7 linked regions of the Homo sapiens genome follow. The protein of the gene in region 1 interacts with the protein of each later gene in a biochemical or structural test. Each region holds a gene or a part of one and is shown on either strand. Other genes may lie near its edges. The genes, in order: ANXA1, RCC2, IGF2BP3, STRAP, LGALS8, CD44 and FLOT1.

Region 1 (4,655 bases):
AAATGTTCCTCTAGGATAAATGGCCACATACGATTATAATGGAAACCTCAATTCAGAGCATTGAATTTTTAAAAATTTCTGAAAAACACTTTTCTATTATTCTGGAATGTATTTTATAAAAATGTCCCAAGGTCATTTTTTTTGAAAAGAATATATAATAACAAAAAAATCTCCTAACAAAATGTTTTTCATTTGTCCTTGAAAAAGTAAAGAATTAGGTGCTTATAATTCTCTGTTGGAAACCTTAACTTTATCGTTATGAACATAAGAGACTCACTTTATCTCTAGTTAAATTCACAGAATAAAAGACTAGTCTTAGCTTATTTTATCTCTCCAGTGAAGCATCTCATTTAAATGATGTGCTCAACACTGAAAAGAGGGTAATTGCAAGTCTCTTACCATTTTCCTACTCTCATTTCCCTGAGCTGCTGGCTTTTTGGCTTTCCCAATGCAATATATGGCATATAGAAGATCTTTCTGCTTGATTCTCATACCAAGCATGGAGAATACAATAGCTTTTGCATATCATTTTCAGAGGAATTTAATAAAAGAATAAAAATAAGGAAGCTTTTAAACCTCATTTTCTGCAATTCTTATTTAATTACCAATGTTTATGTTAGATCCATGTGTCAGTGGTAATAATGATGATTATTTTTGTTTGATAAAACATAGTTTATAAAAATAAGTGTTTATATATTTTTCATATGGCCAAGATATAGGCCAGTGATAGTTTATTACATTGCCCAGTTTCAAGTTGTTTTAGTCCGTTTGTGTTGCTATAAAGAAATATCTGAGACCAAGTAATGTAAAAAGAAAGGAAATACTGTACAAGTAGTATGGGACCAGCGTCTGCTTTTGATGAGGGCCTCATACTACTTCTACTCATGGCAGAAAGCAGACAGAAGCAGATGTGTGCAGAGAGGGAGAGAGAGAAAAGGAGGTGCCAGGCTCTTTTCAACAGCCAGTTCTTAAAGAAACTATGAATGAGAACTCACTCCGAGCCATTCATGAGGGATCTGCCCCCATCATCCAAACATCTCCCAACAGGCCCCACCTTCAACAGTGGAGAATAAATTGCAACATGAGACTTGGCAGGGCCAAACAAACAATATGAAAACCATAGCACTAGTCAATTATAAATTCAATTATTTTTTCCTATTACAGTATTATTTTATGTAGTTAAGCAGAAGTGTTTACACACACATAAATCATCAAACTGCATTACTTATAAGACATTTATAGTTTTTAAACTAAATAAATAATTTGCATTCAAGCAAGTACCTCATTTTGTTCTTTTAAACAATTATTTTATTCATTCTATTGCTTAAATTCTGCCATGTTGTATTTCAGAATTAATTACTAATGTATACCTATACAATTTATTCTTAACGAAAGCTTTATGACTGTGAGTTTTCAATCACAGTATTATCTAAATTGCTCCCATTGCTTCATATGAAATAAATTCAATGATCCAAAAATTTACCTGCTTTAATTTTTCTCTTCTTATTTAAAAATGATAATATTTTGCAACATGTTCCATAAGTCATTGAACACTGTGGCACTGTGAATTTTCAACCAACTTAGAGATGTCAGATATTCTTATTATTATTCATCACTGGTTTACTATAAAATCTATTTTTCTTTTTTCTCAGAACTGAAGAGAGATCTGGCCAAAGACATAACCTCAGACACATCTGGAGATTTTCGGAACGCTTTGCTTTCTCTTGCTAAGGTACAACTCAGATACTTTAGGAAATGCCTCTTGTTTTATAAAGACTAATTTCTTAGTCCATTTTGTGTTGCTATAAGGGAATATCTGAGGCTAGGTAATTTTTAAAGATAAAAAGGTTTATTTGGCTCAGGATTCTGATGGCTAACAAATTCAAGTTTGGGTATCTATGTCTGGTGAGAGCCTCAGGCTGCTTCCACTCCTGACAGAAGAGGAAAGGGAGCTGGTGTGTGCAGAGACCACATGGCAAGAAAGGAAGCAAGAGAGAGAATGGGGAGGTGCCAGCCTCGTTAACAACCAGCTCTCGTGGTTCTCATGAGCAAGAACTCATTCCCAGTGACGGCATTAATCTCTTCATGAGAGATCAGCCCCAGGACCCAAATACCTCCCTCTAGGCCCCACCTTTAACACTGGGGATCAAATTTCAACATGAGGTTTGGAGGGGAAGAACATCTAAAACCATCGCAAGTAAAATCTTGTATCTGAGCTCCTTCTAGAAATGAGTAATAGAATACCTTTTTCTCAAAAAATATTATTTATCTGAGTTTAAGATAATTAAGTAAATCATGCAATTACATGCTAGAGAAGAGCTTACAATAGAATGGGATTTCTTTCAGGGTGACCGATCTGAGGACTTTGGTGTGAATGAAGACTTGGCTGATTCAGATGCCAGGGTAAGGAAGTGCTTACAAAATACTGCTGCAGTTCATCTTCCTACCTTAAGTGGGGCTACCACATGATCCCCTGTGAAAGCAAATCTAAGATCTTCTGAGAGACCAATGGCTTCTTAATGTTCATTTCCTGAATGAGGCATGTCTTTCTGTAGCCCCCACACACAAAAAAGTAGTCTTTGTAAGTTTTCAATATCTCTCATTATTCGTAAAACCAGAGAGAACTGAAGAAGGACAATACAAATTTGATTTGTCATTCCCAAGAATTGTTTGTTAAAAAAAACTCTGACCTTTCGTTGTACTAGGTATAAGAAGGGGAAATGTAATTTTTTTATTATGTGCAATGGAAAGAGTAAGCATATTTAACGTTATTTTTAACAGAGAACTTTGGAATGGTTTATAGATGTCAATTTATATTGTCAAAATATTACTGCAATGATATAACAAGAGTATAGGATAAATTATAATAATATATGCTTTCTAACATATTGTTTTATTTAGTTTCAGTGACATTGCTGATTATTTATATGCCAAACCACTGGCAACATAAGAAAAATCATATCATTTTAAAGCCTGGAATTTCCATTTAAAACAAACAAACAACTAATATTTGCATTATGCCTTCTCATGGAACAGTATTCTCTAGAGAATTCATTACAGTGCTTCACTAAGGATAGAGATTTCTTTGTGCACCCCCATCCACTTCTGCTATACCAGTACATTATCATGTACATAATAGGCACTCATGAACTTTTTGTTCAACAAATGCATACATATCAGATCAATTTGCTTGAAAAATGCAAAATAATTTTTACATACATTGAAGGTTTTATCATTTTAATAGAAATTGTTCAAGCATATTAAGGAACAAGAGTTAGCATTTGAATAATTGCCCATAATAAAAAATTCTTATTTGCTTTTGACATTTCTGAATTTGCTTTCCATTTTAAGACTATCAGGGTTCTTAATATATATTTATGGAGGTTACATGGATTAGTGTGACCCAAGAGAATGATGGTAGTCAACATTTCAAAGTTAATAAAGACCGCTTGTGACAATAGGGCAGGGATTATATTTTTCATATATAAAAGAAAAAAATCTGTCATTTAGTAAGGTTGATCTATTTGTCTAAGATTATGCAGCTTTGAAATTGCAGAGTCAGAATTTGAATACAGAAATTCTAACATCAAAATGCAAGGTCCAGGTTACGGTTGAATTATTGATTTATAAGTAACATTTGCTGATAATTACTTTGAACAACACAGAGTAAAAAATCTTTAGAGATCCCCTTGGAGTTGTCTTACTATAGAGCATAATCTTAAAGCAATTTAGTTCAGCAAACATTTATTCTGCAAACATATATTCAGACTCTAGTGTTTACAAGGCACCTTGAGAGAAACTGTGGAAGATATTTGACAAACAAAATAAGGTCCCTATCTTTAAAGAACTTGCAATCTTATTGTTGACTACTCTGATTGTATTGGGCACAAAGCGATTGCCTATATAATCTTTGACAAGGTCTAACATTATTGTGCAGATATCATTTCAGCAGATAGTGAAGTGTTTACTTTTGTGTTTCTTGACAGGCCTTGTATGAAGCAGGAGAAAGGAGAAAGGGGACAGACGTAAACGTGTTCAATACCATCCTTACCACCAGAAGCTATCCACAACTTCGCAGAGGTAACAATAAATTTCTTTTTCTGGAATCTGTTTATGGAAGATGCAATTTTCTTTTTTGATGACAAATAAGAGAAAGTAAAAACAGAACCCTTTTTCAATATCACTCCTGTATCAAACAGATACAGTGTTCCTGACCCATTGTTATTTGTCAATTTGTCCAATTTTGTACAGCCGCTACTTTATCATATTTAATACATTTTGTGACTTGGGCATGTGGAACATAATTTTGTTATTTTCACTGCTTTTACTCCCCTAAAAGATTTGGAATATGTGTGGGAAAAGACATGCATAACAGAACAAATGAAATTAGAATGAAGAAAAACAAAAAAAAAAAAACAAAAAACCCTCAGAGCTAAATGAAGAAAGAAATATGTAGGTGCTTTGGAAAAACAACAACAAGACAAAACTCAGAAAAAGTCCTGGCCTTTGAGTGCAAGATTTAGCTCTGGGCCTCTTGGAAGTGAAGGCGATGGAAAAGTTATGACAATTACCAAAGTTCACCATCTTATAATAGTATACTGATTTCTACTGTTAAATGTAAGAGAAATTTAGTGCACAGGTCTTTATATAAGGGA
Region 2 (4,655 bases), on another chromosome or scaffold:
GTTGCTGGAGGCAGCCAGGTGAAATGACATGAAAATCACTCATCTCATTGGGCAGACTGTTTGCCAGGCTGTCTGCTGCGTGGCCTTTATACACAAGCAGGGTCGCAGACACTGAGTTCGTCCAAAAAAACAATCCGTAGGCCCATCAGGGAAGGCTGGATTCCGCCTGGGAGGGCACACTGAGCTTCAGACACCCACACACCCACTGGCACCCCCGCCCTGCCCCGCCGCCCCGGGTGGAGCCCGCAAGCGCGGGAGTCTCTCCCACGATTGGCTGTTTCTGGTCTCTGAGGAAGAGGAGCACCCCTTAAGTGAGAAGGGGTGCTGGGAGTTCTCTGTTACTCTATTTAAATGTTAATTCCACATAAGGCAGAGGAAAGAAGTTATAGAGAAATAAAAGAAAGCAGCTTAGAGCAAACAATTATGTAAATAATAACGAAATACACTAACCTCCATCTAATGTGTGAGGAAATAGGATCCATGACGTAAAAACTTGAATAACAGTTAATGTCCTTCATAGGAATCTGACCACCGTCACTGGAGTAGACTCAGTTTACCGGGGTTTTTCACACATACACACGTATATATGTATATGTATACACACGTATGTATATGTGTGTGTGTGTGTATATATATGTGTGTGTGAGTGTATATATATATTTTTTTCTTTTTCTTTTTCTTTTTCTTTTTTTAAGATGGAGTCTCGCTCTTTCGCCCAGTCTGGAGTGCAGTGGCGCGATCTCGGCTCACTGCAAGCCCCGCCTCCCGGGTTCATGCCCTTCTCCTGTCTCAGCCTCCCGAGTAGCCGGGACTACAGGCGTGAGCCACCATGCCCGGCCCACAAATACATTTTTATTGGCGTGGTTGGGTTTGCCTATAAATGCTTAGCTAGCTTGATGGATCAGTCTTCATGAGCCCTTGACCAAATGTCCAGGTCACCCAGGAAACTCCCTCCCCAAGGCCAAGGCCACTGCGGTTAAGCTCTGGCTGTCTGAACTTGCCCCTGAACCATGCCCTCTGGCCTGATGGAGCTGAGGCTTCTGGTGTGGCCTCAGCACTGTGAAGTTTTGCTGCAGTGGTTGCATCTCAGTGTAGGGTGGTTTGACTTCAATGGTTCATACTGAGCACAGGTGCCCATGAACCTCCGCCTGCCTGGTCTGCAGTTGCTGGCATTCCAGGGCTCTTTTCTAGGCTTGCCCTCTGGCCTGGGAGCTTGGTCTCCAGTGCCTTAGCACCCTTCCTGGGTCTCTACTGCCCCCTCCATGCCAACTTGGTAGGCTTGGGCAGAGGACCCAGAGGCCTCTCCTTCCACAGGGACTTCAACAGAAGCCATTGAATATAGACCTGTAGCATATTCCAGCCAGGCCTGCCAGTTAAACAAAGAAGGGCAGATAACCAGGGGAAGCTAGGCTCCAATTCAAGTAACCTGAGTTGTGGGTGCTGCAGGGGCTGGGCCACCCTCTGATTAAGGTCATTTTCTAAATAATTTAAATGAACCAAAGTTGTTCTCCCTTTCCGTGTTGTTTCACTTCCCTCCCCCCAACTTTTTTTTTCTCTTTTTGAGACAGAGTTTCGCTCTTGTTGCCCAGGCTGGAGTGCAATGGTGTGATCTCGGCTCGCTGCAACCTCTGCCTCCTGGGTTCAAGCGATTCTCTTGCCTCAGCTTCCCAAGTAGCTGGGATTACAGACACCCGGCTAATTTTTTGTATTTTTAGTAGAGACAGGGTTTCACCATGTTGGCCAGGCTGGTCTCAAACTCCTGACCGCAGGTGATCCACCCACTTTGGCCTCCCAAAGTGCTGGGATGACGGGCCATGAGCTACCGCGGCTGGCCTCACTTCCCCTTTTCATGAGGACTGCAGGATGCATTCCTGTAGATTGACCATCTTTTTCCTGTTACATAATGTGGTGGAGTGGGCAAGCGTGACGGAACCTATATCTTGGGGGACGCCCTAATCAGGTTTGGGTCGTGTAAAGGTTCCTATTGAAGTGGAAATCATCCGTCATGAAGATGTGTAATCTTAGAAATGCGTGAGCCGTACTGCCAAAGCATACCCATGGGGTGATCACACTGTAGAGGTTAGAATGATTGGGCCTGGAGCTGCCCTTTTTTCTTTTTCTTTCTTTCTTTTTTTTTTTTTTTTTTTTTTGAGACAGGGCTGGCTTTGTCACCATGGTTGGTCTTGAACTCCTGACCTCAGGTGATCCGCCTGCTTCAGCCTCCCAAAGTGCTGAGATGACAGGCGTGAGCCACCACACCCAGCCCACATATATATATATATATATATATTTTTTTTTTTTTTTTTTTTTTTTTTTGAGATGGAGTCTTGCTCAGTCGCCCAGGCTGGAGTGCAGTGGTGCGATCTTGGCTCACTGCAAGCTCCGCCTCCTGGGTTCACACCAATCTCCTGCCTCAGCCTCCCGAGTAGCTGGGACTACAGGTGCCGGTCACCATGCCCGGCTAATTTTTTTTGTATTTTTAGTAGAGATGGGGTTTCACCGTGCTAGCCAGGATGGTCTCTATCTCCTGACCTCGTGATCTGCTTGCCTCAGCGTCCCAAAGTGCTGGGATTACAGGTGTGAGCCACCGCGCCTGGCCAACAAATACATTTTTATTGGCATGGTTGGGAACTTTCATCGGCGTTATTTTATTGGCATTTTATCGGCACTTTGGGAGGCCAAGGTGGGTGGATCACCTGCGGTCAGGAATTTGAGACCAGCCTGGCCAACATAGTGAAACCCTGTCTCTACTAAAAACACACAAAATTAGCTGAGTGTCTGTAATCCCAGCTACTTGGGAGGCTGAGGCAAGAGAATCGTTTGAACCCGGGAGGCAGAGGTTGCAGCAAGCCGAGATCACGCCACTGCACTCCAGCCTGGGCAGCAACACTGGGAGTGCAATGGTGCAATCTCAGCTTACTGCAACCTCCGCCTCCCGGGTTCAAGGGATTCTTCTACCTCAGCCTCTGGAGTAGCTGGGACGACAGGCGGATGCCACCACGCCTGGCTAATTTTTTTGTATTTTTAGTAGAGACGGGGTTTTACCATATTGGCCAGGCTGGTCTTGAACTCCTGACCTCGTGATTCACCCGCCTCAGCCTCCCAAAGTGCTGGGATTACAGGCGTGAGCCACTGTGCCTGGCCCCCTTTTTTTTTTTTTTGAGACAAGGCCTGGCTATGTCACCTAAGCTGGAGAGCAGGTGTGATCTTGGCTCACTGCAGTCTCCAGCTCCTCAGCTCAAGCAATCCTCCCACCTCAGCCTCCCAAGTAACTGGGACCACAGGCTCATTTTTCTATTTTCTGTAGAGACAAGGTTTTGCCATGTTGCCCAGCCTGGTCTCCAAGCTCAAGCAATCTGCCCGCCTCGGCCTTCCAAAGTGCTGGGATTACAGGCGTGAGCCATTGCGCCTTGCCAGACTTTTTTCCTGAAGCCTTCCAAGAACAATTCTGTAAACTGAAGGAAACCCCTTTCCTTTTCACGTCCAGGAAAGATGTGTAAGAGCGGAAAGTGATAGCAGTGAATGCTTCCCTTGCCAGTGTGGACTGAGTGAGGAGTTCAGAATTGAGTCTTCCACTAACAACCTACTTGAAAAAGTATATTTTGACATTTAAGGAAGCAAAGTGCTGAGAATATTATGAGTGCCACCCAGAATTGAACAATGGCCTTTTTAAATGGCGTAGATTTTCGTTGACAGTATGAGAGTTGGTGGCCCTGATGACTTTGTGTTGAGAGACTGAGGATGAACACTGAAGTATGCTGGCTGCTGTGACAGCTTGTTCCTTGAGAGCCGGGCCCCTGGGAGGTCCTGTTTCACTCACCATTGGCTCCCGGGCTCATGGACAGCGGCATGAGGGTGCCATCAAAGGCCGCCTGATTCAGACCCCTGCATACCCACCAAAGCTGTGTTCTGCCTGGTCTCCCTTCAGTGGAGAAATCGAACCTTGTTCTCTACTGTTTTCTTCCTGAGTCCCCATGGAAAGGCTCTCGGCAGAGTGGGCAGCAGAAGTGATGTGAGGCTCCTAAGGTTTGAGGTCGCAGGCCGTGCTTGCCATGTGAAATAGAGACTTGGCCCTAGGATGAGCTGGATTTAACGCCCCTGAGTGTCCGGCAGGCTTCCTGCAAATACCTCTGTACATCAGTTTGCGAAGGAGGCATGTATTTGGGTTTTTTTTTTAGTGTTTTGCAAAAGCTATTTTAAAGGGAAGTCAAAGGATAAAAATGAGCCTGGGCTTAGCAAGTGAGCGGCTGTGGGCAGGTTTGGGGTTGCCCGCATTGCCACTTGCCGATGAGGGAGGGGAGTGTGGGGAGACTCTGTTCGTGTGGAGGTCACAGGTGACATAAGGGCTAACTGAATGATTTTCTTTCGTTTCGTGCTGTCATTGGACAGCCTTGGAAAGCTAGGTGCAGACTTACACACTAATTCTTTTTTCCTTTCTCTGTCTCTGCAGAAACTTGAAGGGTCAAAGTGCAAAGGGCAGCTTTTGATTTTTGGGGCAACCAACTGGGACTTGATTGGTCGAAAAGAAGTGCCTAAACAGCAAGGTATGAGAATGGTGCCTCAAAAACCCATTGAGTGCTTCTTAAGTGCTAGGTTCTGTTGACCACCTGCCTGGTAGGTATTCCCTTCATTTACAAATGCATTTTCACAGAGGC
Region 3 (4,655 bases), on another chromosome or scaffold:
TTTACACAAGTCAGCCCTATTTGGTATGTATGTGTGGGACTACAGATAACTGGGTGACAGGAATCACCTTGGAGGCAGGCTACCACACTTAGAATCTGTGGATGCTCTGAAATTACGTGGAAAGGTTTTTCTGAGGGTGGCCATTCTTAGTTTCACTCAGAGTACTCAAAAAGGTGGGAAAAGATTGATGAACTGAGGAAGAGTGGTAGGGGAAAGACTGCACGGTGTTTGTGTACAAGGAGTTTTCAAAGGAGGTAGTAAGGAAGCAGGAAACTTCTGTTTGGTTGTAAAGAAAGGGGGAAAAAAACCCCACAAAGTGGTAAATTCAATAAGTAATACTACTTTGTCTTAAATTTACCCCCAGAAAGGGGAGAGTTTTAAAAGAAAAAAATCTCAAAAGTTATTCTAGAAGCAGCTATTTTTAAAACTGTAATACAAAATGCTTGGCAGGGCCAGGTTGAGACTGAATTAGAATTATAGACTTCTTTTTAAAGTAGTCTAAGAGAAATAGTCTTCATTATACAAATGTTTACATTTTTAACAAGTTTGAGGAAAATGTTAAGGAATAACTTCCCATTCATCTGGCTCAAGGTTAGCCTGTGACATTATACTAGTAGTGAAAATGAGAACTTCAGGAAGATGAAGGAGATTTGTACCAATAATCCATATCCTCTCAATTTATGTACTTAGTTCTGTTTTCCATGGCACATGTCTCCCATTGCTTTTCCTCTCAAGGCTGTTGACCAGCATAGGCTTAGGTGTTTTCAGGTATGATATTCAGTGGCTTTTGAAGGTTCAGCAGGACCTAGGTCCCGCAGGGAGTTTCTGAATATTTCTGCCACTATCTAACGTTTTTGTTATCTAAATGGCATCGGTGAACCATTTTAAATTTTAGTCAAGATGGATTGATATTCCTCCAGCCTACTTCAATCTAAATTCTAAAGAAACTGGTAAAAACTAAGTTTAGACACAGGAATTCTGGCTTGTGTTTTTGGAATATTTCCATGCTTTCTCCTTGCTTGGTGACCCAGAAAATGCAATTGCACGAGAATGCCAATTATGCCTAGAATTGGTTAATACAGACTAGGAACATACTTATGAAAGGTTATGTACTTAGGGTATTTGGTTTCCTCAAAAACTATACATCTTTCCAGTCATTTTTTAATTCACTGTTCAATTGTGAAAATGGTTCAACTTTAAGCGGTTGAGAAGTAAGCTTTATTTAAAATATGGACTTGATTGAACTATATGTATCCAGTAATCGTTAGTTGAGAAAATGGGAGGGCAAATATTTTCTTCTCTCTTGCAGCTTTACAGTTTCGGATTTACGTCTTTTGGGGCTTACTCATTTCCCATCATGTTTTACCACCCACTTTTACATATTACCAGGCTCCACAGTTTGTTTTTAATTGCCGTCTGTGGCTGAATTATTAGCTGTCTTCCTCCAATTTTCATTCTTTTTCTTTCCCTTCTTTTTCATTCTGCAGATTGCAGGAATTGACGCTGTATAATCCAGAACGCACTATTACAGTTAAAGGCAATGTTGAGACATGTGCCAAAGCTGAGGAGGAGATCATGAAGAAAATCAGGGAGTCTTATGAAAATGATATTGCTTCTATGAATGTTAGTTTTGTTATGAAGGGCATGTCTTTATTTTAACAAATAGTTAAAACAATGTTTTTAACTGCATTAATATTGAATTCTTTTGTGGCATTATCACTAGAAGTAGTTCTAGTTGATTTTTAGCACCTCAGCAAGTACCCTGGGATAGTAGGGAAGATACTGGCTTTGACATTAAGCTTTGCTGTCTCTGTGACTTTAGCAAATTATTCAGTCTTTGAGCCTTAGCTTCCTTCTGTCTGAAGTAAGGCTAGTGTCTACCTACAAAGGTTAATATAGTACCTCTCTTACAATGTTAATTTGAGAGAGTTTAATATAGAAGAAATGTTACATGAACTGGATTTGAATCACAGCTGAACCATTTATGAGCTGCAGCTCTCTTCTCTTATATGATTTACTCAGTCTCTCTGAGGCTCAGTTTACTCATCTGTAAAATGGGACTACTGCCTACCTTGCATTCTTATTAGGATTACAATAGATATAATGCATATAAAAGTTAATGTTAAGATTACAGGTTTAAAACTTGGTTAGCCATATAAACCTTGGAGATACAAGAATTTCAATTGATAAAACAATCTGTGTAGTGCATCTGAGGCTATTAAAGCAAATTGCTGACATTCCTTAATCAGTGAAATGGTGCTGAAAATGGAATACTTCAAAAGCCTGTCTTAAATTTTAAAGTAAATGACTTTAAAAAATAATTTTTTTTCAATTGGGCCAGTCATCTGAAACACAAAACCTGAGACGAGGGAAATGTGCAAATACTGCGTTTGTGAGAAGAGCCTAGAATGCTAGCCATTTTACACCCCACGTGACTTCTTGCCAACCTGCTTCAATTCTCACTGCTTGGCTCCAAATGTTCTGGAATCAACTGGGATTAAATCTAACCCCCTTAGGCCTTTTAAAAAGATTTTCAAGTACACTCAAATCTCCCTTCCACCGTCTACATTACGTCCTCAACCCTTATAAAATTAAACAAATTAAAATACCCTTTCTGGCTCCTATTTCCATTCCAGTGATATGTTTACTTGCAGTAGTTACATGGGGATGGGTCCTGATTTCCAGAGGGCTCAACTTTGAGGCCTCTAGACCCATGGTTGCTAAGTTTTACCCAGCAAGTAAAGATCTCTTAATAGCTGGTTTGCTTTTCAATGAACCAATCTTACTTGATTACCTCTTCAACTCTGATACATTGCTTTTTGTCTATATTTAGTTTGCCCACAGCATGCAGAATACGGTTTTGTCTAAGTCCTGTGGGCTAGTCATAAGGGAAAGGAAAGCTTCCCTTGAGATATCTTAATGCAGCTGTGGACCAAGGAGGGGGCAAACCAGCACACAGATTTTAAAATACCAAGGGATATAAACAGATGTAAACGATGTACTCAAGTAGAGTCCCATGGAACATCTGCTTTGAGTTATACAATCATTTCTTTATTAGACAAGAGATCAGTTTGAATACTGTCACTTAAAAATGCTCACTTTCCCTTGATTCTTTTAATTGTCAAATTAAGGGGCCTTTTTACTGTTGCAGCTTCAAGCACATTTAATTCCTGGATTAAATCTGAACGCCTTGGGTCTGTTCCCACCCACTTCAGGGATGCCACCTCCCACCTCAGGGCCCCCTTCAGCCATGACTCCTCCCTACCCGCAGTTTGAGGTAAGATAACTGGCCTTGGCTTTCTTTGTGATTGGGCAAAATCTTAATGTAAACCTAGTCCCCGCGTGATCATCTGTTTAGATGCCAACATATGCTCTCCAGTTCTTGCTAATGGAGCCTTCTTATTTGGCCCTTTGTGGAGTAGACATGGGATTATTTTGCAGTTTTTGGATAGCGGGGTTGTCAACATGTGTTTTCAAATATCACAACAAAAGTTTGGGACTTTGAGGTGGCAGGGGAAGAAACTTAGTAATTGTTTTTCTTATTTAAAAAAATTTTTTTTCTTTTTTCTTTTTTCTTTTTTTTTTATTCTAAGTTCTCGGATACATGTGCAGAATGTGCAGGTTTGTTACATAGGTATACATGTGCCATGGTGGTTATTTAAAAGTTTTTGGAGACACAGTCCCACTCTTTCGCCCAGGCTGGAATGCAGTGGCACAATCTTGACTCACTGCAACCTTCACCTCCCGGGTTCAAATGATTCTCATGCCTCAGCCTCCTGAGTAACTGGGATTACAGGTGTGTGCCACACCACACCCGGCTACTTTTTTTGTATTTTTAGTAGAGACAGGGTTTCGCCATGTTGTTCAGGCTGATCTCAAACTCCTGGCCTCCAGTGGTCTGCCTGCCTCGGCCTCTCAAAGTGCTGGGGTTATAGGCGTGAGCTATTACCTGGCCAGTAATTATTAAATACTAAAGGAAAAGATTTTTTAAAGGCTTCTTTCATCTTTGTCACCTGAAGTCAATGGCTTTGAAAGGTCAGGAGTGACTCTGTGTGTTTTCCATGTTGAGTGTACTTTTTTAAACCAAAGAGATAAGATAGTTTTGTGCACAATTATATTGTGTGTGTGCGTGCATACATTAAGCAGATGTTTATTTTGTAAAGAGGTAGGTTATATAAGAAATAAATCTTAGGCCAAGTGCCATGGCTCACACCTGTAATCCCAGCACTTTGGGAGGCCGAGGCGGGAGGATCACCCGAGGTCAGGAGTTCAAGACCAGCCTGGCCAACATGGTGAAACCCCATCTCTACTAAAAATACAAAAAATTAGCCGGAGTGGTGGCAGGTGCCTGTAATCCCAGCTACTTGGGAGGCTGAGGCAGGAGAATCGCTTGAACCCAGGAGGCAGAGGTGGTAGTGAGCTGAGATTGCGCCATTGCACTCCAGCCTGGGCGACAGAGCGAAACTCTGTCTGGGAAAAAAAAAAAAAAAAGAAAAAGAAAAAGAAAGAAATATTTTATACTTGCTTTTTAAGAATAGCAGTTTCCTTGAGGTCAGAAATAGGAGACTAGTGATGGTATGAAAATAATCGCAGCACAGCAGACACCTGATGGAATAAATTATTTTGAAAGTAGTTAATAATTCAGTTGCATTATC
Region 4 (4,655 bases), on another chromosome or scaffold:
GTTTTCAAAGAAGTTTTAAATGGCTAACAATATTTTTAAACAAATCAAAATGGTATTCATTATGGTCCTAGTAATTAAAAAAAAAAACACAAATACTGTACACCCACATATATAACATAGAAAAATGGACTAGCAGAAAATATAACTACCATTATCACTCTTGCACCTATGGGTATAATATTGTGGGTACATTTTTTTCAATTATGTTATATATTCCAGTCTTTCTCCAAGAGTATTTACTACATTTAAAGTCGCAAAATTCAAATCTGTTTAAAAAATTCATTAAGTCTGCAAATACTCAGGAACAGAAATAAGATTATTCCTTCTCTAAAACTTTAAGGTGAAAATAAATAGTAGAATCAAGATCACACTGTTTTTTTGTTTTTTGTTTTTTTTGAGACAGAGTCTCACTCTGTTACCCAGGCTGGAATGCAGTGGTGTGACCACAGCTCAAAACAACCTCCACCTCCTGGGATTAAGCAATTCTCCTGCCTCAGCCTCCCAAGTAGCTGGGATTACAGGTACTCACCACCACACCCAGCTAATTTTTCTTCTCTTTGTATTTTTATTTTAGAGACGGGGTTTCACCATGTTGGCCAGGCTGGTCTCAATCCCCTAACCTCAAGTGGTCCGCCCACCTCAGCCTCCCAAGGTGCTAGGATTACAGACGTGAGCCACCACGCCCAGCCCACACTGGTTTTATATAGTAAAAAACATTAATGACAGCACCATTTCAGTAGTTTTTGCTTTTTTTTTTTTTTTTTTTTCAGAGGAGGTTTTGCTTTGTCATCCAGACTGGAGTGCAGTGTCAAGATCACAGCAAAATGCAGCCTCAACCTCCCAGGCTCCAGCAATAGAATACTCACCTCAGCCTCCCAAGCAGCTGGACTACAGGCGTGTGCCACCACACCCAGCTAATTTTATTTTTTGTAGAGATGGGGGTCTCACTGTGTTGCCCAGGCTGATCTCAAGCCATCCTCCCACCTCAGCTTCCCAAGGTACTGCGATTATAGGCATAAGCCACCACTCCTGGCCTCTTTACTTTTAAAAAAAGTAAATACCTTCCCATTTTTAAGTAGCCAAAATGTCTTTTGTTACCTAAAAAAGAAAATGAAAGTATTTCTTGGACATACCTTACTGCACTATGAAAAGCAATAGATCGTCCATAAGTTATAACCAAAATCTCTCCCTCAGGAATATATTCCATACTACTAACAGACATATTAAAATTTAGAGATTTCACTTCTGTCATAGTAGCATGATCCCAAAGTCTGCAAAATAAAGATAAAAATATGATGTTTACTCATGTAAGAAAAAAGTTTATAAATTCTAATTACATCTGCAGATTAGCCAACGAAAGAACAATCACAATTACAGAAAAACAACATTCATTCCAAGTCACAAATTACAGATGATTAAAAAAAATTCTGGGTTTCTATATACAATGTCAAATTATGCATGATAGCTTGTAAGTAAAATCAACTTTAATACCTACATACACTTCCCAATTTGGCAAAACTACATTATTAAGACAAGTTCTAATCTAGTCAATTTCAGCATTGCTATAAATAGTGGTTCTTACACTCTGTTTTTGTGAATCTAGTAATAGCTACACATCTTTCCAAAGAAATATACATCAGGTGTCAGCACACAAGATTTTGTATAGAATTTCAGAGGCTTCATGGTCCCTCCCTTTAACCATTCTGCCCACAGACCCAGGTTAAAAACACCTGCTTATAAGGTATCAGCAATTTAATTTTCTTCTGAATTTTGCTGTCTGTATACACAAGGTGAGCATCCCTTAATTGAAAATACTTGGGACCAGAAAAAAGTTGGATTTCAAACTTTTTCGGATTTTGGAATATTTGCATTAGACACTTACCAACTGAGAATTCCTAACCTGAAAATAGGAAATTCAAAATGCTCCAATGAGCATTTCCTTTAAGCATCAAGTCGGCACTCAAAGTCTCAGATTTCAGAGCGTTTCAAATTTCAGATTTTCAGGTTAGGGATACTCAACCTGTATTAGTAAATAGATAGCTCCAGATAAATGTGACCTGGGTGCAACTTAAATTTTAATGTTCAGAACATTTTTCACACATAATATTAAATGTATTTAAAATATAAGCTCTAAGGTAAAATATTTTGCAAATTTTAAGTTTGTTTTTCTTTTGAGACAGTCTAGCTCTGTCGCCCAGGCTAGAGTGCAATGGCACGATCTCGACTCACCGCAACCTCTGCCTCGCAGGTTCAAGTGATTCTCCTGCCTCGGCCTCCCGAGTAGCTGGGATTATAGGTGTGTGCCACCGCGCTTGGCTAAGTTTTGTAATTTTCATAGAGACAGTATTTCGCCATGTCGGCCAGGCTGGTCTAGTACTCCTGACCTCTAATGATCCACCCGGCTCGCCTCCCAAAGTGCTGAGATTATAGGCGTGAGCCACCATGCCCGGCCTTAAATTGTAAATTATTAAAGAAAAATTACTTACCGAACAGTTTTGTCATCAGCAGAAAGAATCTGTTTATCCTCACTGCACCACAGAGCTTTTTTTATACCAGAAGTATGACCACTAATTTCCTTAGGTTCTTGAGATAAAACAATTTAAAGTACATTTGTTAATATATGATTTTTTAAACTGAACAATATCGGAACAATTATATATTTTTAAAAACACACATTTTAAATTAGACTGCAACTTTTCAAAGCCCAGCCCAATTCAAACTTGATGTTTATATAGAATACAGTTAGTTTTTCTATATTGGAACATAAATTTATCTGCATGACAGGGACCCAAGGAACTACCATGCTTGCTATATGTAGCTGAGTGAATGCACCACTCACTCCCTCTAGGCTAAATTTCTGCACAACTGATAATATTCAAAAGCATTATTGTATAATAAATAAAAAGTATTTTATATTTATTATATGTATAATAAATATAAAAGCATTATTGTATAATTGTATAAGTATAATAAATATAAAAGCATTATTGTATAATATACAATATTTATTTGTACAATAATACAAATATTATTGTATAATATAAAAGCATTATTGTATAATTGTATAAGTATAATAAATATAAAAGCATTATTGTATAATAAATAAAAAGTATATATTTATTATATGTATAATAAAAAGAATTTTATATATAATAAAAAGTATATATTTATTATATGTATAATAAATAAAAAGTATTTTATATATAATAAAAAGTATTTATTATATTATTAATAAAATAATTAACGTGGCATAATTTAATAAGAACACGGACTCAGGAACAAAACAGTTGAATCTGATTGCAGTACTATGGCTAACTCTGGGACGTTTATCCAAGCAGCTATTGATAGTAAATAATGAGAAATAAGGGTTGGAAGGAAAAAAGGGAAATAGAAAGTGGGACAGCAATTCCCAAGAATGTTTCTACACTGTGAGGAAAACATAAAAAAAAAGGAAGGGAGCTTAAATCTGTAGGAGATTATCCTTTCGAAGAACTTCAAAAAACCCTCACTGCTGTCTCTAGGGGCAAAAGCAGACACTGGAGGCAATGCCATTCAACACTATTTTCACCTTTGGGCATGTTACTTAACTTTTTAACTTTATTTCCTCATCTGTAAAATGAGATAACAATGGTTACAAATGCGAATAGGGCTTAACAGATACCCGATACACAGTAAAACCTCATTTTATTTTCTGCTGCCAGCACAGCGAAAGAGCAACTTTCATAAAACAGCTTTGGGAAAGGTAAAGAGCATGAAAAATGTCAACCCAATCCCTGAACTACCTTGCTTTGACCCAATCCCTGAACTACCTTGCTTTGTTGAATGGGTTCATAGAAGAAGTGAGGTCAGAGTCCTTTGCTATGTTTTGGCATAGATTTATCAAAAAAGAAAGGAGAAAAAAACTTCTACATGCAATGGAGAATAAAAAAATCTGCAAATGCGCTTTGTTTCCTCACCTTAAAAATGTTTTCATAACAAATTACTGTAACATTAAAATGTAAAATATTTTAAAAAGTTCTCAGAAATGGAAGGTATCTCAAGAGAATAACCGCTTAATTTCCAATGTGGTTCTGACTCTCTTATTACTCTTTAAAATTTTATAGATTTATGACTACATAAATGTCCACATAATAAAATCTGAAAGATACCAAATATATAATAAAACAAAATTATGTTTGTCATGTTTTGGTAGCTAAGTATATATATGGTGAGGGAAATTATTAAAATATTATAAAATAAACATGTAGACTGGGGAAGACACCTATAACTTCTGTAAAATGAGAGAATGCATAAAGAATTTCACCACCAAAATGTTAAAAACATATATACCATAAAACCACCTTAACAAAATTTAAAAGCAAATGATAAATTAGAATTCAATAAAGAACCTTTAAAAACCAGTAAGAAAAACATGAATAACACAACAGATAAATGGACAAAAGGTAGACAGGCAATTATTCCATAAAAAAGGGAATATATTAAAATGGTATTCAATAGCATTTTAATCTCATGAATATTCACATTAATACAACAGAATTATTTTCTTAAATTGACAAAGAGAAAGTTAGTTATCAGTGCTCACTAGAACATGTTGGGTATAGATACATACATATATACCCATACTTTGTTGGAAGACACTTTGGTAGTATCTATCA
Region 5 (3,905 bases), on another chromosome or scaffold:
CGGCTTTGGACAAACACACTGAGGCCAAGATGTGCTGAGCTTATCAGGATCAGGATCACCAAGCAGCTGTAAAAACCCTAGCAAGTGCCTTAAGCTGCTGAAATTTCATATTAATTGTCTGGTTTGTTCATGGTCCTAGAGTTTGAGGCAGAAAAGTCAGTCAGGATCCAAGTCCCTTGGTTCCAGGCTACAGCTGGAAACAGCATCTCGGTGAACTAAAGCAACCATATTAGGAGTGAGTTTTCCTGCTTTAGGAGAGTCCCCAGCATCGGCGAGGAGGGGCAGCACTCTGGCTTTCCAGGAGCAAGGGGCAGGATGCGGCCGAGGGAGAGGGGCTGTGTTGAGGAAAGGAGGGCCGCAGGCCCTGGGGATGGTGTGAGGCTCCAAACATGTCCGAGTCACTTCCCTGGGTGGGATGAGGCAGACAGTGCCACCACCAGGGACACTTTAGTTAGATTAGGGTCTTGGAAGTCAGAAGGAAGTCAGCAGCAGCAGGCTGGAACTTTTCTATGTATAATCAAATGGTTTACTCTGACACCGTTAGCATGTAACAAACACAAAATTTTAAACTAAGGGGAACCACTAATGGCATGTATCCTTTCCTTTCAGATGATAATTTATTGTGATGTTAGAGAATTCAAGGTTGCAGTAAATGGCGTACACAGCCTGGAGTACAAACACAGATTTAAAGAGCTCAGCAGTATTGACACGCTGGAAATTAATGGAGACATCCACTTACTGGAAGTAAGGAGCTGGTAGCCTACCTACACAGCTGCTACAAAAACCAAAATACAGAATGGCTTCTGTGATACTGGCCTTGCTGAAACGCATCTCACTGTCATTCTATTGTTTATATTGTTAAAATGAGCTTGTGCACCATTAGGTCCTGCTGGGTGTTCTCAGTCCTTGCCATGAAGTATGGTGGTGTCTAGCACTGAATGGGGAAACTGGGGGCAGCAACACTTATAGCCAGTTAAAGCCACTCTGCCCTCTCTCCTACTTTGGCTGACTCTTCAAGAATGCCATTCAACAAGTATTTATGGAGTACCTACTATAATACAGTAGCTAACATGTATTGAGCACAGATTTTTTTTGGTAAAACTGTGAAGAGCTAGGATATATACTTGGTGAAACAAACCAGTATGTTCCCTGTTCTCTTGAGCTTCGACTCTTCTGTGCGCTACTGCTGCGCACTGCTTTTTCTACAGGCATTACATCAACTCCTAAGGGGTCCTCTGGGATTAGTTATGCAGATATTAAATCACCCGAAGACACTAACTTACAGAAGACACAACTCCTTCCCCAGTGATCACTGTCATAACCAGTGCTCTACCGTATCCCATCACTGAGGACTGATGTTGACTGACATCATTTTCTTTATCGTAATAAACATGTGGCTCTATTAGCTGCAAGCTTTACCAAGTAATTGGCATGACATCTGAGCACAGAAATTAAGGCAAAAAACCAAAGCAAAACAAATACATGGTGCTGAAATTAACTTGATGCCAAGCCCAAGGCAGCTGATTTCTGTGTATTTGAACTTAGGGCAAATCAGAGTCTACACAGACGCCTACAGAAAGTTTCAGGAAGAGGCAAGATGCATTCAATTTGAAAGATATTTATGGGCAACAAAGTAAGGTCAGGATTAGACTTCAGGCATTCATAAGGCAGGCACTATCAGAAAGTGTACGCCAACTAAGGGACCCACAAAGCAGGCAGAGGTAATGCAGAAATCTGTTTTGTTCCCATGAAATCACCAATCAAGGCCTCCGTTCTTCTAAAGATTAGTCCATCATCATTAGCAACTGAGATCAAAGCACTCTTCCACTTTACGTGATTAAAATCAAACCTGTATCAGCAAGTTAAATGGTTCCATTTCTGTGATTTTTCTATTATTTGAGGGGAGTTGGCAGAAGTTCCATGTATATGGGATCTTTACAGGTCAGATCTTGTTACAGGAAATTTCAAAGGTTTGGGAGTGGGGAGGGAAAAAAGCTCAGTCAGTGAGGATCATTTTATCACATTAGACTGGGGCAGAACTCTGCCAGGATTTAGGAATATTTTCAGAACAGATTTTAGATATTATTTCTATCCATATATTGAAAAGAATACCATTGTCAATCTTATTTTTTTAAAAGTACTCAGTGTAGAAATCGCTAGCCCTTAATTCTTTTCCAGCTTTTCATATTAATGTATGCAGAGTCTCACCAAGCTCAAAGACACTGGTTGGGGGTGGAGGGTGCCACAGGGAAAGCTGTAGAAGGCAAGAAGACTCGAGAATCCCCCAGAGTTATTTTTCTCCATAAAGACCATCAGAGTGCTTAACTGAGCTGTTGGAGACTGTGAGGCATTTAGGAAAAAAATAGCCCACTCACATCATTCCTTGTAAGTCTTAAGTTCATTTTCATTTTACGTGGAGGAAAAAAATTTAAAAAGCTATTAGTATTTATTAATGAATTTTACTGAGACATTTCTTAGAAATATGCACTTCTATACTAGCAAGCTCTGTCTCTAAAATGCAAGTTGGCCTTTTGCTTGCCACATTTCTGCATTAAACTTCTATATTAGCTTCAAAGGCTTTTAAACTCAATGCGAACATTCTACGGGATGTTCTTAGATGCCTTTAAAAAGGGGGCAGATCTAATTTTATTTGAACCCTCACTTTCCAACTTCACCATGACCCAGTACTAGAGATTAGGGCACTTCAAAGCATTGAAAAAAATCTACTGATACTTACTTTCTTAGACAAGTAGTTCTTAGTTAACCACCAATGGAACTGGGTTCATTCTGAATCCTGGAGGAGCTTCCTCGTGCCACCCAGTGTTTCTGGGCCCTCTGTGTGAGCAGCCAGGTGTGAGCTGTTTTAGAAGCAGCGTGTTGCCTTCATCTCTCCCGTTTCCCAAAAGAACAAAGGATAAAGGTGACAGTCACACTCCTGGGTTAAAAAAAGCATTCCAGAACCACTTCTCTTTATGGGCACAACAAAGAAACGAAGGCTGAAGTTCGCCTACCCAAAATGAAAAGTAGGCTTTACAGTCAAAAGTACTTCTGTTGATTGCTAAATAACTTCATTTTCTTGAAATAGAGCAACTTTGAGTGAAATCTGCAACATGGATACCATGTATGTAAGATACTGCTGTACAGAAGAGTTAAGGCTTACAGTGCAAATGAGGCGTCAGCTTTGGGTGCTAAAATTAACAAGTCTAATATTATTACCATCAATCAGGAAGAGAATAATAAATGTTTAAACAAACACAGCAGTCTGTATAAAAATACCGTGTATCATTTACTCTTTCTGCAGCTCTATACGATAGGCAGGAGAGGCTTATGTGGCAGCACAAGCCAGGTGGGGATTTTGTAAAGAAGTGATAAAACATTTGTAAGTAATCCAAGTAGGTGTATTAAGGCACCAAAAGTAACATGGCACCCAACACCCAAAAATAAAAATATGAAATATGAGTGTGAACTCTGAGTAGAGTATGAAACACCACAGAAAGTCTTAGAAATAGCTCTGGAGTGGCTCTCCCAGGACAGTTTCCAGTTGCTGAATAGTCTTTTGGCACTGATGTTCTACTTCTTCACATTCATCTAAAAAAAAAAAAAAAAAATCAAAATTAAAATCTGAGTCAGTCCGCCTGCCTCGGTTCTCATTAGTTTAATTCTTAATGCCTTGCACTTTCCGGCAATCATTCAATCAAAAGAGTGAAATGAAGCACATTAACAAAGCAGGAGGCGCCACGGACCGCCTCCCTCCACACCGCTCCTTCCGCCTTCATTCCTTGCCCACAGGCTTGCACTGGAAGCTGAATAAGAATCCCCAAAACTCAAACTTCCTAGGGATGCCACCCCTTTAGTAGCTCACACCTCCCCCCTCCAAGAGCTAAGAAACAAAGGAGAATGTACTT
Region 6 (4,655 bases), on another chromosome or scaffold:
TAAGTACATGCCTGAAGGATCTATGTGTGTGGTGGGAATTGGTGATGCCAAAGAATGCTAAAGACTTTCATGCCCCTTAAAGGGGAAAATAACCACAACAAAACAAATTCCAATGTATCTTCTCCTGTCTTCTGCAGCACTGGGGGAGTCCCCTGATAACAGGGATCATGTCACATTCATTTTTGTGGGCCCAGATCCCAGTAATATTGACCCATAACTGTTGAACTGCAATGAATGTCTAGAATATAAAAGTCATGATATCTATATATATGGAAGCATGCTGTCAGTATGGGCTAAGGTGCAAATACATTTATGTGTAAGTGAGAACCATGGTGATGGCTGTGTTGCTCAGGACAGGGCTGACTTGGCTGGCTGACTGCCCACCACAGGCCTCATGTTTGGTCTACCCCAAACAGTGAGCTCACCCATCTGTTTGTTTGCGGCTTTGGTGGCTGCCTGCTGTGACCGCTGGGGACATCTGGCTAAAGACAGGGTTACTAGATAGTTGGGCTGAGAAGGGAGTGGGAGCCAGTGAGATGAGGACACCAACCCCAAATTTAAGCCTCAAAACAAAAACACTCCCCAGCAGCAGCCACCTTGGGGTTCTAGTTATTTTGGAGATACTGATACGAGGTTGAGATCCTTGGGTGAGAGGCCCACACTCCTCCAACCCCCATGTCTGCTTCTGGAAGGTGGTGGCAGAGGAGAGAAGTAGAAGTACTATATGGGAGATGCGGGAGATTCTTGCCTTCTCTGTCGGTCTCTTTGGGCAATTATCAAGCTGTCATCTGACCAGATACTACCATAGCTTCTTCGGGGGCAAATCCGTAGGGAATCCTGACATCCGACGGGGAGCCACTTTGGCAATGGCAAACGGTGTCTCCTCTCCACAGAGCTTGTGATGTCAGAAATTACCCATAACTGGGGCAGGTTTTGTCTTCCCAAAGATTGTCTGCCCAGCTAGACCTGAGAGACAGGGAGACAAACACAGAATGAGGGGGTGGGTCTTGTGGGGGTGGGGAACGATGGAAACTCACAGAGCCAGATCTCCCCGAGTTTGAGTTGCACTGGCTGCCTGGGTGTGTCCTCCTGAGGTAAGTGTCCCTGCGAAGTGCAAGTGTGGGCAGACAGATCTCAGGTGGGTGGGGAGGGACTGAGTCACCAAGGAGGTGATTTGCAAAACTCAGGTCCCAGAAACTTTCAGGTCTTCAGCTTTTAAAAGTAAAGGTTAATTGCAAAACTCCGGGGTTGAGGGAAGAGATTATTCACATAGACCAGTCATTTTGAGCATCTGCTGTTGTGGCATTGCAAGTCTCCTTCGCAGTGCCTGAAAGTTCATTTGTTTTTGAGAGCTCTTACGCTTTTTCTGTTTGCATCTTTGCACAAGTTCTATGTTTCTGAGAACCCTCACCACTATTAGTAATAATAGCAAACACTTACAGAGTGTTGACCATGTACCAGCGCCATTCTAATTGTTTCCTATATACTGCCTTGTTTAATCCAAACACTGACTTCATGAAGGTGGTGCTGTTATTATCTGTCTTTTACATATGAGGAAACTGAGGCACAGAGAATTTAAGTAGCTTGCCCAAGGCCATGCAGCTGATAAGTGATGGCGCTGGGATTCAAACTCACATCTGGCTACAGAGTTCATGCTCTTTGTCACTATGTTAGAGTGCTTCTCTTGGTATATTAAGATATCGAGGCACCCTAGAAATCCAGACGATTGTACCTGGAAGTACTGTAGTTGTTTTCAAAAACTTCATTTGGGAATCTAGTTGTGGGTGAGGTCATAACATCCACTGAGCTTTTAAACATGATGTCAGAGGAAGGGGTTAGAATTGCAAAAATGAAGGAGGAGGAAGTTGTAATGGAAACTTCTGCCAATGCATATTCTGAGTTGACTCATTCATTCTGATCTCTGAATAGAAGCTCTACTCTCTTCCATGTGATGGAAAGTTGAGGATAGGGTAGGGCTGAGAGGGATGTGAATTGAGTTGTTTGTTCATTAGGATAGGATAGGGCTGAAAGGGATGTGAATTGAGTTGTTTGTTCATTATCACTTCATTATTTGTCACCTGGATGAAAGGTAAAGGTGGCTGATTAGTGTTTCTCCATCAGCTAGAACTTTGACTGGGAAATGAGCCAATCAAATAGCAGCAAAATATTTGCCCTCACCTTACAGGCCCTTGGTTCCAGGGTCTTCTCTCCACCGGCTAGAATGGATGAGGGAGGGAGAGAAACTCTGAGAAAAGAGGCTGTCAGGAGTAGGGCTGTACATATCCAGGGCACAAGGAATTTGGCAAAAGCTGGAAGTATACTATAGCCCTTCTCTCCAGCCCTAGCCTAAACCAGATGACCAGGCTTCTATTTGGCCCAGCATGTGACCATCCCATCAGGGAGCAAGAGAGTTTCCTCTGGGTACCCCTCACTGAGAAAAAAGCCACCCAGGAAGGGAGGAGGCAAGGCCCCCTGGGAACATCTGGCTCAGTCCACAGGAAGGGATGCAGGCCTTTTCCTGGGAATGAGGACTCATCCCATATTCCAGCCCCCTTCCCCCAACTTTTTTTTTTTTCAATTTTAGTGCATCTCTTTACACTTAACAGGTCTGCAGTGACTTCTAGGAGGATCCACACACCAATCGTGGAACTAGGCAGCATCTTTTTCCACTTCCTTTCCAAGATAGTAGCACGATAACAGTAAAGCCCCTTTGCAAGTGTTCACTATTATGCACATTAAGATGCCAGGGAGAGGGCTGGGAAAGGTGGCTCACACCTGTAATCCCAGCACTTTGGGAGGCCGAGGCAGGCGGATGACCTGAGGTCGGGAGTTCGAGACCAGCCTGACCAACATGGAGAAACCCCGTCTCTACTAAAAATACAAAAAAATTAGCCGGGCATGGTGGTGCATGCCTGTAATCTCAGCTACTTGGGAGGCTGAGGCAGGAGAATCACTTGAACCCGGGAGGCAGAGGTTGCAGTGAGCCAAGATCACGCCATTGCACTCCAGCCTGGGCAACAAGAGCGAAACTCGGTCTCAAAAAAAAAAAAGGTGCCAGGGAGAAATGAACAATTCCATGCAGCCAACACCTGGTCTCCTGCGTTTGGCTTAGAAGGGCATTTCTGCCCAAGCCCCCAGCTCTAGTCTTTGCACACTTTAAATGAGTAGCTACTACATGCCAATCACAGATGTTGCCTCTGCTGAGTATCCAGTCAAAAAACCAGAATCTAACAGAGCTAACTAAGCACCATCTTGCAGGAAACCAGCTGACGTCAGCTCCGCAGCCACCAGTGAGTTACTGGGCCCACATCTGCCTGCAAGAGGGGGAGGGGAATTCAGGTAACCCACAAGAGGGGATAAAAGTTCGGGGAAGAAATCTCCTGTCAAGGAGTTTGTTTTTGCAGTGGATCCTCTGCAGTGAGACTAGTTGTCTTTACAATATCATTAGAGGTCAGGTACATTCCTGTAGACTCCCTTAAGTGACTTGCTTTCTCCTATTGTTCCCCCTGAAAATTCATAAAAACCTCACAAACACATCTCCATTTAAAAAGAGAAAGTTTAAAGGATGCCATGTAATGGTTATCTCTTTTCTTTTGCCAGTGAGCATAAAAGCTCCTTAGGGAAAAGCCCAAACCCTCTATACATTTTCATATTCATGATAGCCCTGAGCGGTCAGCACAGTTCCCCAATTATAGTGGGTGCTCAATAAACACTTGGATGGCTTACTGAATTAATAATGTTTCTAGACTTGGCTAGCAAAGCCATCTCCGTTACTTATCTTTTGTGATTTTTATAGGTTCTGTCTAATTCTTTTTCTTCATTTTTTTTCTTTCTGGTCTATACAAATCTTCTTTCATTTTTCTCTATTGCTACTTGTAGCGATCCTCAACCCGCCTCCTCCCTTGAAATTTCTGTTCTCTGCACTCTCTTCAGTCTAAAGAGATCTTTCTTGAGGTTTGAAATGTTACACAAGGCAGGGGAAGTTTAGAGCTAATTGTATTTTGTCCAGTAGAACGGGGATCTGGATTTCCTATAGGTCTGGCTGCCTCTTTGTCTACACCTTTACTTCCAAATCTGGCCTCATGTATAAAAAGACCCCAAACCTTAAAATCATGTTCTCAACAATACTCAGAGAAAAATTGTTGGCTTTTTGGTCACCATGCTAGAGGAATAAAAGGGCAGTTGTTTCTTTCGGTCAATGGTTTGAAAACCTCCCAGACTAAAAATCACCTCCATATAATCAGATGCTTGGTGTGGTGTAATGAAGATGAGGAGGTCTGGCTTTGATAAGAGTCATTTAGAAGGTATAAAGGCAGTGGAACAAGACGGGAGGACCCATACACCAGTTGATTCCCCTCTTGCCACTTAACAGCAGCGTGAGCTTGGGCAGTTGCACTTGTTAAATGTCTGGAACAATACTTAGCACGTAATTTCTAAAGCTTAATGTTTAGTTCACAGAAGGTATCCCAAGAATAGAAATGATTATTATATTTTAGCTTCTCTCTATTACTGATTCACTATGTGCTGCTAGGCAAAGTATTTCACCCCCATTTACTTCTATTTTTCCATGTGTAAAATGCGAGGGTTGGATTCTAGTTGATCTGTCAAGTCCTTTCCAGGCCTCATGTTCTATAAATTCACCACTCTGTGGGCTT
Region 7 (3,894 bases), on another chromosome or scaffold:
CCCAATTTTAAGATGAGGAAACAGGTATAGAGAGGTTGATTACTTGTCCAAGATTACAGCTAGCAGGCATTGTAGCTAGGATTCGCAACAAAACAGTGGTTCCAGAGCCTGTTTGCTGACTTCTACCATGATCTACAGGTGAATTAACTGGGGCGCTGAGAAAAGCAGTGATATGCCCTAGAATTAATTAACTGTCAATAGGCTGCAACTAGTTCCCTATACTAGTGGGGTGACCACAAGCACAGGTTGCAGAGACAGTCGACCTGGATTTCACTCCAGCTGCACTAGCAGAATGAGTAGGAACATGCTGGATGTTGAGTTTCTGGACTTTGTAAAATCCTATATACCCTAATGGTAGTTTGATTTAAAACAACTCATTTATGTAGAAGCTTAGCACTGTGTCTGGCACACAGAAAGTGATTAATAAACATCAATGACTCCCAGGCCTGGATGCTGGTTAAATGCTAGGCATACTGTGTCACACAACACAGGAACCTAGCAATTCTCCTCAGCTCCAACCTGAGACCTCACCTGGGAGATGCTCACGCCTGTGAGTCTTTCCACACTCTCTGGCAGGCGAGTTAGAATGTCCAGTACTTCCCCAGTCACTTTGGCTGCCCCCATGGTCCCACTGCCGCTGGACACCAGTGTGATCTTATTGGCTGAAGTCAAGGGACCACTGATCTCCTCTGCCACCTGGCAGGAGAGAGACACCCACTCAGTGCCCATGATCTGACCACATTCCTCATAAAACAACTTACTCTGGGTTTTAAGGTCCTCGTTCCACTGATCATCCTTCCTCACTTTGGTCACTAATAATTCCCACCCCTAATTTAGAGTCCCCCTAGGCTGTTTCTCCCTAAGCCCCTCACTACACCCCACCCCTTAGTCCCTGGTTCTATTTCCTCCTTTCTTGGTGCCCACATGACCTCCAGACCTGGGGCAGCTTCTCTAGCAGCATGTCCAGCTGAGCAGCCTCTTGGTACAGCTGGAAGGCTTCTGCCTTCTTGGCCATCTGCTCAGCCTCGGCTCGGGCTCGGGCCCCTATGGCAAAGGCCTCAGCTTCCCCACGCATCTGAGGGTTAAGGATGCTTGTGAGATTGACGGAAATCATTAAGAACAAGAAATCCCCGATCAAGCAGCAACCCCCACCCTCTCCACAAGCCAGCATGGAACTGCCTCTTAACTCACCCGCACAGACGCGGCTTCTGCCTCCGCCTGCATAATTAGTTGGGACCTGTGGACAGAAGGGAAGTGGAGGGTGGAGCCCAGCAGCCCTTACTCCCAGGAGAAAGGCCCAGTGCTGCAGAGGCAGACGCTCCTGAAACCTGAAATCCATAGGAGTCCAGGTGGTGAAGGCTTCAGCACTCCATCTTGGGGTGCCTAGGTGGCAAGTGAGCTAGGCAGGGTCAGGGAGGGGACATTTACTTCTCTGCCTCGGCTAGGCGCTCCAGCTTGTAGCGCTCCGCTTCCGCTGGCTTCCGCACCCGGGCCTCCAGCTCCTTCTCCCGCCGGGCGATCTCCTGCTCCTGCACTGCCACCTGCTGGGCCCGCTCCACCACCTGCACCTGCACCCGCTGCTCCTCAATCTGCTGCTTAGTCTTGGCCACCTGGGTAGGAGGGTGAAGTCAGGTTCACGCTCTGAGTCAGAGGTGAAGAGCAAGTGCCCGGGAACCAGAGCTCCAGAGTGGGATATAAAAATAGGAGCCGGTGGCCGGGCGCGGTGGCTCACGCCTGTAATCCTAGCGCTTTGGGAGGCCAAGGAGGGTGGATTGCCTGAGTTCAGGAGCTCGAGACCAGCCTGGCCAACATGGTGAAACCCTGTCTCTACTAAAATACAAAAAATTAGCCAGGTGTGGTGGCGAATGCCTGTAGTCCCAGCCACCCGGGAGGCTGAGGCAGGAGAATTGCTTGAACCTGGGAGGCGAAGGTTGCAGTGAGCTGGGATCACGCCACTGCACTCCACCCTGGGCAACAGAGTAAGACTCCATCTCCAAAAAAAAAAAAAAAAAAAAAGGAGCAGGTGCATGAAGGTGGGTTCCCTCCTGTCTGCTTGGCCAGTCCAGTGGAGTCCAGTGTTTCTCTGATGAGCCCCCGTTTAATCTATTTTTCCCACGTGTGCCCCCTTCTAGAGTATAAATACCTTGAGGGCACTGAGCACATGTTGGCTTTCTGCTATCTCCAGTCTTGCTCAAATCCCCCCACTGTTGCTGCGATAACCTTAGTGCTAGCCTAGGCTACTGCAATAGCTGACTTATTTTTTGTGGGGGTGGGGACAGGTGATCTTTTTTGTCTTTTGCACATGGTGCAGATTTAACAGAAAAAAAAGTGAACCACGAGGCTTCTTCCTCATTCTCCAAACCACCTGGGTCCCTTTCCCAGAGAAACCACCAAGACCAGCTTCTTGTGTATCCTTCCAGGGATACTCTGAACATCTACAAGAATGTGTGTATTCATAGAATTCCTCTTATTTAGGCAGATTTCTTTCTTTTTTTTTGAGGCAGTTTCGCTCTATTGCCCAGGCTGGAGTGCAGTGGCACGATCAGCTCAGTGCAACCTTCACCTCCCAGGTTCAAGCTAATCTCTTGCCTCAGCCTCTCAAGTAGCTGGGACTACAGGCATGTGCTACCATGTCTGGCTAATTTTTGTATTTTTTTTAGTAGAGACGGGGTTTCACCATGTTGGCCAGGCTGGTCTCAAACTCCTGATCTCAAGTGATCCATCCGCCTCAGTTTCCCAAAGTGCTGGGATTACAGGCATGAGCCATCGCACCCAGCCTAGATTTCATCTTCTTATTCCTTGCAGTGTGAGGGAATCAGAAGGCTCTTATCAAGATGCTAGTGAGGAGAGGTGCCAGGCAAGGAACACATTTTTTTTTTCTTTTTGAGACATCATCTTACTCTGTCACCCAGGTTCAATGGCGTAATCATGGCTCACTGCAGCCTTGACCTGCCTGGGCTCAGATGATCCTCCCGCCTCCCCCTCTAGAGTAGCTGGGACTACAGGTGTGAACCAGCACACCCGGCTATTTTTTGTACTTTTTGTAGAGACAGGGTTTTCTATGTTGCCCAGGCTGATCTCAAACTCCTGGGCTCACGTGATCCACCTGCCTCGGCTTCCCAAAGTGTTGGGGTTACAGGCATGTGCCATCACACCCAGCCAGAACACATGCCTTCGTTGTCCCATTGCTCAGGCTCAGCCATGCACCATCATCATTGTAGGTCTCATCAATACATGTGATGCTTCCCCTGCCTCCTACCTTCCCCCGGGCCCATCTGTTCACTCCAGAGAGAAGCATAGCTCTGGAGACGGCACTCTGTACTGTCTTTCACCCTAAATTTTCAAACCCGTTCCAAACTGGCCTCGTTGCCCTCTACACCGGTGTGCAGGATCACCTCTCTCCTGTGTCCCTTAGGCAACCATTTGTCTGTTTCTTTTTCCTTCCTGTCTATGCCCACCTTTTGGTGAAACTCAACCTCCAGAAGCTTCCTCAGAAAGAATATAAAGACAATATTTTTTCTGAGGTCTTGCTTTCTCTGAGATTTTTATTCTACCTTTTTTTGAGATGGAATTTCGCTCTTGGCACCCAGGCTGGAGTGCAGTGACGCAGTCTTGGCTCACTGCAATCTCCATCTCCCAGGTTCAAGCAATTCTCCTGCCTCAGCCTCCCATGTATCTGGGATTATAGGTGCCTGCCACCACGCTCAGCTAATTTTTGTGTTTTTAATAGAGATGGGGTTCCACCACATTGGCCAGGCTGGTCTTGAACTCCTTATCTCAGGTGATCCACCTGCTTCGGCTTCCCAAAGTGCTGGGATTACAGGCGTTAGCCACTGCACCCGGCCTCTACCCTTCTATTTTAATACCAGTTAGGCTGAAAGCAGGCTGCTATGT

What was found.
Region 2: the proteins of ANXA1 (region 1) and RCC2 interact in a test that uses a peptide from one of them, tested with the Homo sapiens proteins (one large-scale study listed by BioGRID).
Region 3: the proteins of ANXA1 (region 1) and IGF2BP3 interact in a test that uses a peptide from one of them, tested with the Homo sapiens proteins (one large-scale study listed by BioGRID).
Region 4: the proteins of ANXA1 (region 1) and STRAP interact in a test that uses a peptide from one of them, tested with the Homo sapiens proteins (one large-scale study listed by BioGRID).
Region 5: the proteins of ANXA1 (region 1) and LGALS8 interact in a test that uses a peptide from one of them, tested with the Homo sapiens proteins (one large-scale study listed by BioGRID).
Region 6: the proteins of ANXA1 (region 1) and CD44 interact in a test that uses a peptide from one of them, tested with the Homo sapiens proteins (one large-scale study listed by BioGRID).
Region 7: the proteins of ANXA1 (region 1) and FLOT1 interact in a test that uses a peptide from one of them, tested with the Homo sapiens proteins (one large-scale study listed by BioGRID).

Annotation. Positions count from the first base shown.
Region 1 is NC_000009.12:73,161,130-73,165,784, forward strand, and holds part of ANXA1 (annexin A1), read left to right. Parts: intron 1-1,652; coding exon 1,653-1,732; intron 1,733-2,346; coding exon 2,347-2,403; intron 2,404-3,986; coding exon 3,987-4,080; intron 4,081-4,655. UniProt on the Homo sapiens protein: Plays important roles in the innate immune response as effector of glucocorticoid-mediated responses and regulator of the inflammatory process. Has anti-inflammatory activity.
Region 2 is NC_000001.11:17,428,995-17,433,649, reverse strand, and holds part of RCC2 (protein RCC2), read left to right. Parts: intron 1-4,450; coding exon 4,451-4,544; intron 4,545-4,655. UniProt on the Homo sapiens protein: Multifunctional protein that may affect its functions by regulating the activity of small GTPases, such as RAC1 and RALA. Required for normal progress through the cell cycle, both during interphase and during mitosis.
Region 3 is NC_000007.14:23,340,686-23,345,340, reverse strand, and holds part of IGF2BP3 (insulin-like growth factor 2 mRNA-binding protein 3), read left to right. Parts: intron 1-1,487; coding exon 1,488-1,623; intron 1,624-3,151; coding exon 3,152-3,277; intron 3,278-4,655. UniProt on the Homo sapiens protein: RNA-binding factor that may recruit target transcripts to cytoplasmic protein-RNA complexes (mRNPs). This transcript 'caging' into mRNPs allows mRNA transport and transient storage.
Region 4 is NC_000012.12:15,891,975-15,896,629, reverse strand, and holds part of STRAP (serine-threonine kinase receptor-associated protein), read right to left. Parts: intron 2,584-4,655; coding exon 2,487-2,583; intron 1,272-2,486; coding exon 1,134-1,271; intron 1-1,133. UniProt on the Homo sapiens protein: The SMN complex catalyzes the assembly of small nuclear ribonucleoproteins (snRNPs), the building blocks of the spliceosome, and thereby plays an important role in the splicing of cellular pre-mRNAs.
Region 5 is NC_000001.11:236,547,403-236,551,307, forward strand, and holds part of LGALS8 (galectin-8), read left to right. Parts: exon of another isoform or gene 1-559; intron 560-609; coding exon 610-759; 3' UTR 760-3,499; coding exon of another isoform or gene 3,500-3,588; 3' UTR 3,589-3,905. Other genes in the region: HEATR1 (HEAT repeat-containing protein 1), read right to left, coding at 3,500-3,588.
Region 6 is NC_000011.10:35,145,054-35,149,708, forward strand, and holds part of CD44 (CD44 antigen isoform 1 precursor), read left to right. Parts: intron 1-4,655. UniProt on the Homo sapiens protein: Cell-surface receptor that plays a role in cell-cell interactions, cell adhesion and migration, helping them to sense and respond to changes in the tissue microenvironment.
Region 7 is NC_000006.12:30,729,491-30,733,384, forward strand, and holds part of FLOT1 (flotillin-1), read right to left. Parts: intron 1,611-3,894; coding exon 1,429-1,610; intron 1,238-1,428; coding exon 1,192-1,237; intron 1,076-1,191; coding exon 938-1,075; intron 697-937; coding exon 532-696; intron 1-531. UniProt on the Homo sapiens protein: May act as a scaffolding protein within caveolar membranes, functionally participating in formation of caveolae or caveolae-like vesicles.